3 separate regions of the Homo sapiens genome follow, and all the other regions are linked to region 3. Evidence: fine-mapped expression QTL. A gene starts in region 3. Each other region holds a variant in brackets. All regions are shown on one strand. Distances are between the middles of the regions.

Region 1 (2,765 bases), 50 kb before region 3:
GTAGGAGGAGAGGGAGGAGGGTAGGAAGACAGTTTGCATTCTTGCAACATTAAACCAAAGGGACTTGGAGTGCAGATGGCATCCTTCGGTTCTTCCAGACAAGCTGCAAGACGCTGACCATGGCCAAGGTAACCGGCTTCCCCTCCTATTGCTCAAAGGATGCAGTCTACAGCTATTTTGTACCTGGCTCTTTTAAGAAGTGCACCTGCCTCATCGATCTGTTGTCCTTCCTAGCCTATGCTAATTCTGGGTTACTCTGTTAATATATGCTGATGTAAGGGTTACTGATTATACATTGGCGCCTACGCACTTCCTAATGATCTAAGGGCCCAAGTGTTAGAGAAACCACTCTGTCCCTTTTCTAGCGAGTAAAGAGTCACCTTGGCATGGGATCTGTTGCATACACAAAGATAGAGTTGTTCTTATGGCCATTACTTCTTCAGGATCACTTTATGGAAACCATTGCAAAATTAGATTTGTTCTTCCAATTCAAGAGGTATCCCGACCCTAGCAGGAAAAGGCATGTTTGGGGAAAGGAGTAAAGTATGTGACAAAGGGCATGGTACTATAGGTGTTGGAGATAATTCTTGAAAATTCTTGAATGAGATGATCATTCGATATCAAGAAGATGATTTTTGAATGAGGTTCCTTGTGTCTCTCCCTGGTGGACACTCCTTCTGGAAGGAACCTCTTTGAGCTTCAGTCCAAGCTCTTTTTTATTCTTTGTTTCTCAAATTGCCTCTTCCTTAAATTGGTTGTCACCTTGGTGCCACAAAGTGGGTGTATCTTAGTATGGGGTTCGTTATTCTTTCTTATTTCTGAATAACCCCGAGAATAACTTGCAAATATATATAACTTGAAGTGGATTGAATGTGGAGTAAAAATCTTGCAAGTATAACTTGAAATGGATTGAGTGTGGGGTTAAAATCTGATGTGATAATAGACAAATTTCCAAACCAGAATGAAAATGATTGTTGAAAAATGAATGCTGAGGTCACAAAAGTTAGAATTGCCTAAGTCTTTAGGTCAGTCTTTACACCAAATAGTTAGTGAAGATGTTTTACCTGGAAGTCCATTTCTTATTCAAGCAATGTAAGAATTATTAGAAAGGATGACTCACAGTAAGAGAATGATGACTAAAACCCATAGGATTTTCATAACTAAAACCAAGATGAAAACATTTTAGGAAAGGGGAACTGGGCAACACGCGACTTCAGTGTCTACCAACAGAAAATCTTTCCTCCTCCCAGATGCTGCGGATTTTTTGTCCTTAGTCAAGGTCACCCAGAGTCTTGCAAGAACTGACAATTCTTGGCAGAGTTAATTTGTTGAGTGCCTTTAAAAGTAAAATCATATTAGCAGATTGCTTTTCAGAAGTTGTCTTTATCATGTTTTACATATTGGTTTTACATACATATGATCTTTGTGTATTTCTTATTGCCATAAATAATAAGCATTTTGTGATATGCACTGTCTTAGTCCCTGGAAATTCTGAAGAACAAATTGTTTCATTTCTCAGGTAAAGTTCTCTCTTAAATGTAGAAACAGTAAGCTGGGTGTGATAAGGGAGGGAAATTTATGGACCTGTCCATTTAGCTATGGTTTTATTTATGGCTCTTAAG[ATAAGC/C]AGATTTAAGTGTGATTAATTCTGATATGAAGGATCCCCTGGAAAGCTCAAGAAGGTTTACTTTAAGAAGCGTCTGTCAGCAACTAACCATGGGCTTCTTTTCTGTTCCATGTGCATTAATATAACTGTATAAACTGCTCTAACACAAAGTGAGAGACTTGCCAAATTACTTCTCTAAGTCCAATTAAATCTGGCTCCAAGCCACCACTCAGCAAAGTTGGCCGTCTAATACCAGTCATATTTTAGCTTGCCTCCTCTTCTCTTAGGCTGAAAATGACATGGAGAGTAGGGGCTCCTGCCAGAGCCATCTGGGGCCTCAGTTCTTTCGGCAGCCTCCCCTATGTCCCCACTGTGAGGCAGGCACTTCTGCACCAGGCTGGAAGACACGGCCCTCCAGGTTCCTCTCCACTGACCAAGGGCTTGGCTGCCGACACCCTACCCATGGCTCTGTGGACACCAAACCTGGTGTCCAGCCTACACAGGCACCACACAGCCACCTCGCATTTGAAACTCTATTGTCTCTGTGGCAGTGGATGGAAGCTGGGCCCGACTGCTACCTCTCCCAGAACCATAAGCCCCATCTCCTTTCCAAAGGTTTCAATAGCCCCACATCCCAGTAGGTTCACTGCCCTCTTTTATCCTCCAGGCCCCAAAGCATCCATCTGCTTCCCCCGGAGATTTCCAGTTTAATATTCATTGCTATGACTCCTTTCAGAGGAATCTGTAATGCAGGGAAAAGGACACCAATAGCTCACTTTGTTACAATAGCAAATGCTTCAGCAAGTCAGTGCTACTACCTGTCAGTGAAGACAAAGCCAAAAACGATTATCACAAAGAGCATTTGGAATGCTCCCAATTCTTTTTTCTAAACTTTTATATAAAGTTTAGACTTTACATAAAACTTTTCCAGAAGTTATCAATTGCCTTGTCAATTATTAATTATATAATTATATATTTATATGTATTAATGTTATTTTACATAAAGTTAAAAGCTTATATAACCGGCCAGGCGTGGTGGCTTAACGCCTGTAATCCCAGCACTTTGGGAGGCCGAGGCGGGCAGATTACCTAAGATCAGGAGTTTAAGACCAGCCTGGCCAATATGGTGAAACCCCGTCTCTACTAAAAATACAAAAAA
Region 2 (2,765 bases), 34 kb after region 3:
CCCTTAATACCCCTGTGTGTATTTCTTAAGAACAAGGATATTCTCTTACACAACCACAATATAGTTATCAATGTCAGGAACTTTAATATTGATATAATACTTTTATCTAATCTACAGTCTGTATGCTAACTTAATCAATTTAATTCTACTAATGTTCTTTAGAGTATTTTTTCTTGGCACAGGGTCCAGCCCATAATCACAGATGACATTTACTTGTAGTGTCTCTCTAGTCTCGTTTAATTTGAATCAATTCTTTAGCCTTTTCTTGTCTTTTAAGACATTGACATTTTAAAAGAATATAGATTAGTAATTTTATGATATTGAAATAGTTGCTTCAATTTGGATTTTTCATCATTCTTCTCCTTTTTTAGGTTAAGATTCACTTACAGAGCACTTACTATGTGCCAGGCCCTGTTCTAAGTGCTTTGCAATTATTAATCCTCATAACAAGCCTCTGAGGTACACATTATCATTATTTCCATTTTTCAGATGACAGCCCTGAGGCAAAGAGAGAGTAAATAAGTCGCCCAAGGTCACCCGACTTGTAAGCAGGGATTTGAACCGAGGCAGCCTGGTTCTGGAGCCCTTGCCTGTAACCTTCTTCCTTCTCAGTAAACTCCAGCCACACTGGCCTCCTTGCTTTCTTCAACATGCCAGGTATTCTCCCACCTCAGGGCCTTTGCACGTGCCTTTCCGACTGACTTGAAAACTTCTCCCCTAGCTATCTTCTCAGTGATGCCCTCACTTTTTGGGGAGTCTCTGTTGAAATGTCACCACCCTATCTAAAGTGGCCCACACTGACATACGTTGGCCTTCAACACACACCACCTGACCTATTACATATTTATGAATGTGTTTATTTACTGCCTGTCTCCCACGCCGAAATGTAAACTCCAGTAAAGCAGGGGTTTTCGTCTGTTTTGTTCACTGCTACAGTTTAGAACCCCGTAGACTACCTGGGAACTTGGGTAGGTAGTAAATAAACAGTGGTGAATAAATTTAACACAAATCAGTAAATTTAAATCTATAAATTATTTATAAATTTAAACAAATCAGACATTTAGAAATGTTGAACATTAAAGAAGATGACTTTTCATTTTATAATTTAGAAAGAAAGATGAAAGGAAACAATTTCTTAGTGAGTAAATATTGCTGGTACCCTATGTTCTGATGGGAGACAGAAGAAAAAGCATGCCACTGTGGGCAGGGAGTGCTTCAGGGTGGGCCCACCCTGAAGAGGGGAGCATGCCCACAGTCAGACACCCTGGGAGGAGCCCTGTCCTGGATGAGAAATGCTGGTGGAAGCACAGGCAACAAAAGCAAAATAG[G/A]CAAATGGGATTATATCAAACTAAAAAGCTTCTGCAGGGCAAACAATTAACAGAGTGAAGAGACAGCCTACAAAAGAGGGGAAAATACTTGCAAACTATACATCTGATAAGGGGTTAATACCAAAAAATGTATAAAGAACTCAAATAACTCAATAGCAATACAACAAATAATCTTATTTTTAAAATATGGCTGAGCGCAGTCGCTCACGCCTAAAATCTCCGCACTTTGGGAGGCTAAGGTGGGCAGATCACTTGAGGCCCGGAGTTCGAGATCAGCCTGGCTAACATGGTGAAACCTGTCTGTACTCAAAATACAAAAATTAGCCAGGCATGGTGGCGCATGCCTGTAATCCCAGCTACTCAAGTGGCTGAGGCAGGAAAATCACTTGAACCCAGGAGGTGGAGGTTGCAGTGAGCCGAGATTGTGCCACTGCACTCCAGCCTGGGTGACACAGCGAGACTGTCTCAAAAAATGAAAATAAATAAAAAATTTTAAAAAAATTTACAGGCAGGCCAGGCGCAGTAGCTCACGCCTGTAATCCCAGCATTTTGGGAGGCCAAGGCGGGCAGAACACCTGAGGTCAAGAGTTCAAGGCCAGCCTGGCCAACGTGGTGAAACCCTGTCTCTACTAAAAATACAAAAATTAGCCGGGCATGATGGTATGCACCTGTAATTCCAGATACTCGGAGGCTGAGGCAGGAGAATCACTTGAACCCGGGAGGCGGAAGTTACAGTGAACTGAGATCACACCACTGCACTCCAGCCTGGGCAACAGAGCGAGACTCGGTATCAAAAAAAAAAAAAAAATAGACAAAGGACCTGACCTGACTAGACATTTCTCGAAAGAAGACACAAATGGCCAACAGGTTTATGAAAAAGGCTCAACATCACTAATCATCAGAGCAATGCCAGTTAAAACCACAGTGAGATGTCACCTCCTACGTCATAGAAAGGTTATTATCAAAAAGACAAAAAAGACAACCAGTGTTGGCAAGGATGTGGAGAAAGGAACCCTTGCACACCACTGGTGGGAATGTAAATTAGTACAGCATTAATTTCCATCCTTTGTGTATTTGGAAAATAGTATGGAGGTTCCTCATGGAATTAAAATTAGAACTACCATGTGATCCAACAATCCCACTTCTGGGTATACATTCGAAGAAAATGAAATCAGTGTTGAAGAGATATCAGCACATCCATGTTCATTGCAGCACTATTCATAGTACTTGACTTGAATCAAAGCTATTGGCTTTGCTTAATGAACAGTACTTCAAGTAGGCAAGATATGAAATCAACCTAAGTGTTCATCAACAGATGAATGGATAAAGAAAATGTAGTATATATACACAATGGAATCCTATTAAGCCATAAAAAAGTAAGAAAATCCTCTCATGTGCAACAACAGGGATGAAAATGGAGGATACTATGTCATGTGA
Region 3 (2,765 bases):
CCTCAAGAGTTGCTAAAGCAAGATTTTCATGCATTCTCATTCTTAGAGAATAACAATGACCTACACTGAAATTTTAAAAAAGGACTCTAAAAGAAAAAAAAAAAAGAAATAAAGCTAAATGTCTGACATCTTATTACCCCTCTGGGAGGACATCATTCTACACTAAGGATATACAAAGTAAAAAAGTAAAAAATTAATCCTGCAGGTAAAGGGCCACGTCTCTCCTTTAATTCCAGTGTTATGCACACATTCCAAGGCAGATGCTATCAGTGTTCCTTCCAATGTTCCAATGAGCCCATATTAAAAAAAATAATAATCTGTCTGAGGTCATGAAGTCTGGGGACAGAAACGCAAATTAATATCCAACCTAGCGTCATCCAAATGGCAAGGTTCGCTTCAGGGTAGCATACTGGAAGCTCCTTGAGAACAAGGACCCTGTAATCCCCCTGCAAGCTCAAACTAGCTATCCAACCAAAACCCAAATAGCCCTCTCTAGAGATAGCTATGAAAGCAACTGCTTTTCCCTCTAATACAAATTATCAGCAAATAAATGTTTATAGCTTAATGCTTAAAACTTACCTAGGTAGAGCCATCAATTTTTCTAAAGCCTAATGTTTAAAATTTACTTGGGTGGAATAAATATACTTTTATTTAAATATCAACTTTCTAACAGTACAATCCTACTCTGGAGGTTTAGGAGGAAAAAAAAAAAAAAAGGAAAAAAAACTTGGAGCTGCTGCCCGAAGTACTGAATCAGCTCTGGAAGTTGTCATCACCCCTAATGCTGCCTTAAAGAAGATTCCATACATTATCTTCAACTTATAGGTGCCAAATCATTTCCCATGCTTAATCTCGGCAGCTGGAGACTGACCAAGTGGAATCAAAAGCTCAGGATTTAGAGTGAAAAGACCCCTGACGTTCAAGGCCGAGCTTTCCCAATACTTGTGAGACCTTGGACAATTCACTTAGCCAAATAACTCTCATTTTCTCTTCTGTAAACTAGGAAGGGACGTAAATACCTGTCCCACCTGCCTCATGGATGCGTCGTTGCTGCCGTTAGGTGGAGGGGATGATCCACAGAGGGCCACTCGCCGTCCCGCCGCCCCCGCCCAGGTCCAGCCAAGACAGAAGGCGCCGGAGTCCCTGCGGTGCTGGGTCCGCGGCGCTCGGGAAGGATGCTCCTCTCGCCAGCCTCCCCTCGGGACAGCGGCGACCGGCGTTCTGACATTCCCCGCCGTAACACCTGCTCGGCGCCCTCTCCCCGCGCGTCTCCGGGTTCGCCCCGCGCCCGAGACCCCTGCCCCGCTGGGCGCCCCTCTCGCCCTCTGGTGGCACAGAGACCCCAGCCCCAAGGGACTGCACCCTCCTCGGCACCGGGCGCCTGCAGCTGAGTCTGGGTTGAGGCCAGGGCCCGACCGGCCTCGCCCCCAGAGCCTCGCCTCCCCTTATTCCAACACCGGCGGGGACTGGGTGGTCGCAAGCATGCGACTCCTTACCCGGCAGCTTGAGCGCCCTGGACAGCACGGTCGCCATGGCTGAGGCCCCGGTGCGCGTGCGCGCGCCCGCGTTCTGCCGGGAAGTGTAGTTCCGAGCGGCGGTGCGTGGGGCTGGGACCGGGAAAGGTGGGACCCGCTTGCTGGGGACAGAGCTGAGGGAGGCCAAGCCAGAGTACACGCTCCGCAGGCTTTTCTCCCACCCTACCTATGCAGGTCACCTCACCACTCTGAGTCTCACTTGCCTCGTCAGTGAAATGGGGAGAAAATACCCCGTAAGCTTGCAGTGAAAATGATTCGAAGGAGATATTTAAGGAGGTGTGGATTGTGCAATGTGCGTGGGCTTTGAAATCAGGCAGACTGGATTTGAATCCTGCCTGAATCACTTACTAGCTGGGCCATCTTGGGCAAGTCCCTTGGGGCGACTGAGCTGCCGCTGCTTTTTTTTAATTAAAGACATACTACCTACTTCACAAGCTTGCAATGAGAATTAAATGATACGACCTGTTTAAAACACACAGCACACAGTAGGCACCTAGTAAGAGTGTTTCTATTACGCTTCTTAGGTAGAAGTTGAAGTTTCCTGGAGCTCGAACCCTCATTTATTGCTCCCAGTTCTTTACAGGTGTCTACTCAGCACCCTACGCTGCAGCTTCTAGTTGAAGGGTGTAGAAGGAGGATCCGACTGTGTACATACATCCAATAGATGCAGCATCTCCAGCTCCTCAGATTTCAATGCTTGACCTTTAAGGCATCTGCACGCTCCCCGTAATCACCCCAGCTTTGCCTGAATGATTTTTGCGGAGAGCCCGATGCCCAGGAATTCCTCCTTCCTTGGCTCCCTGAGCTTTCCCCCACTTTGTCTTCCTTGTCCCTCTGGAAATCTCCTTCATCCCTCCATAACTTTTTTCCATTTTAACATAGGAACTGCAGCTTAGAATAGTATTTCTCAAATTTAATGTACTTTCTTTTCAATTAAAGAAAAAAATTCAAAGCAGCTGCCAAATGAATCAGGATCCTTACCTTTTACATAGAGAATACCTGTGTGTTCCTCTCTAGCTACTGAGTGGAATGTGAATACTTTTGCTGCCCAAACACCCACTGAGGTCACTGTGGAAAATGCAAACACCCAGGCCCTCTCTGACTTCTGAACTTGGCTTGCCTCAGGACCAGGCACAGTGGTGTAGAAGGAAGAACTGACTTGCTTCTTTCCCACACGCAAGTGATCAGCATTTTAGTGCAGGAATGCTAATACTGTGTTATCTTAGAACT

The links. PIP is the estimated chance that this variant, and not a neighbour inherited with it, causes the effect.
Region 1: its variant is the best candidate, but not a certain one, in a credible set for the expression of FAM234B in pancreas (GTEx, PIP 0.71).
Region 2: its variant is the best candidate, but not a certain one, in a credible set for the expression of FAM234B in unexposed skin (GTEx, PIP 0.79).

The regions. Positions count from the first base shown.
Region 1 is chr12:13,092,962-13,095,726 of GRCh38, reverse strand. The region is part of intron 1 of GSG1 (germ cell associated 1); the gene reads left to right. Among named protein-coding and RNA genes, the nearest start is that of GSG1, 9.3 kb to the left of the region's middle. The variant ATAAGC/C (reference allele first, on the strand shown) is at 1,623.
Region 2 is chr12:13,009,205-13,011,969 of GRCh38, reverse strand. The region is part of intron 2 of GPRC5D-AS1 (GPRC5D and HEBP1 antisense RNA 1); the gene reads right to left. Among named protein-coding and RNA genes, the nearest start is that of HEBP1, 10 kb to the right of the region's middle. The variant G/A (reference allele first, on the strand shown) is at 1,329.
Region 3 is chr12:13,043,172-13,045,936 of GRCh38, reverse strand. It overlaps FAM234B (family with sequence similarity 234 member B), which reads right to left and starts at 1,556. Exons shown (of 13, transcript NM_020853.2): 1 at 1,497-1,556. The coding sequence starts at 1,533.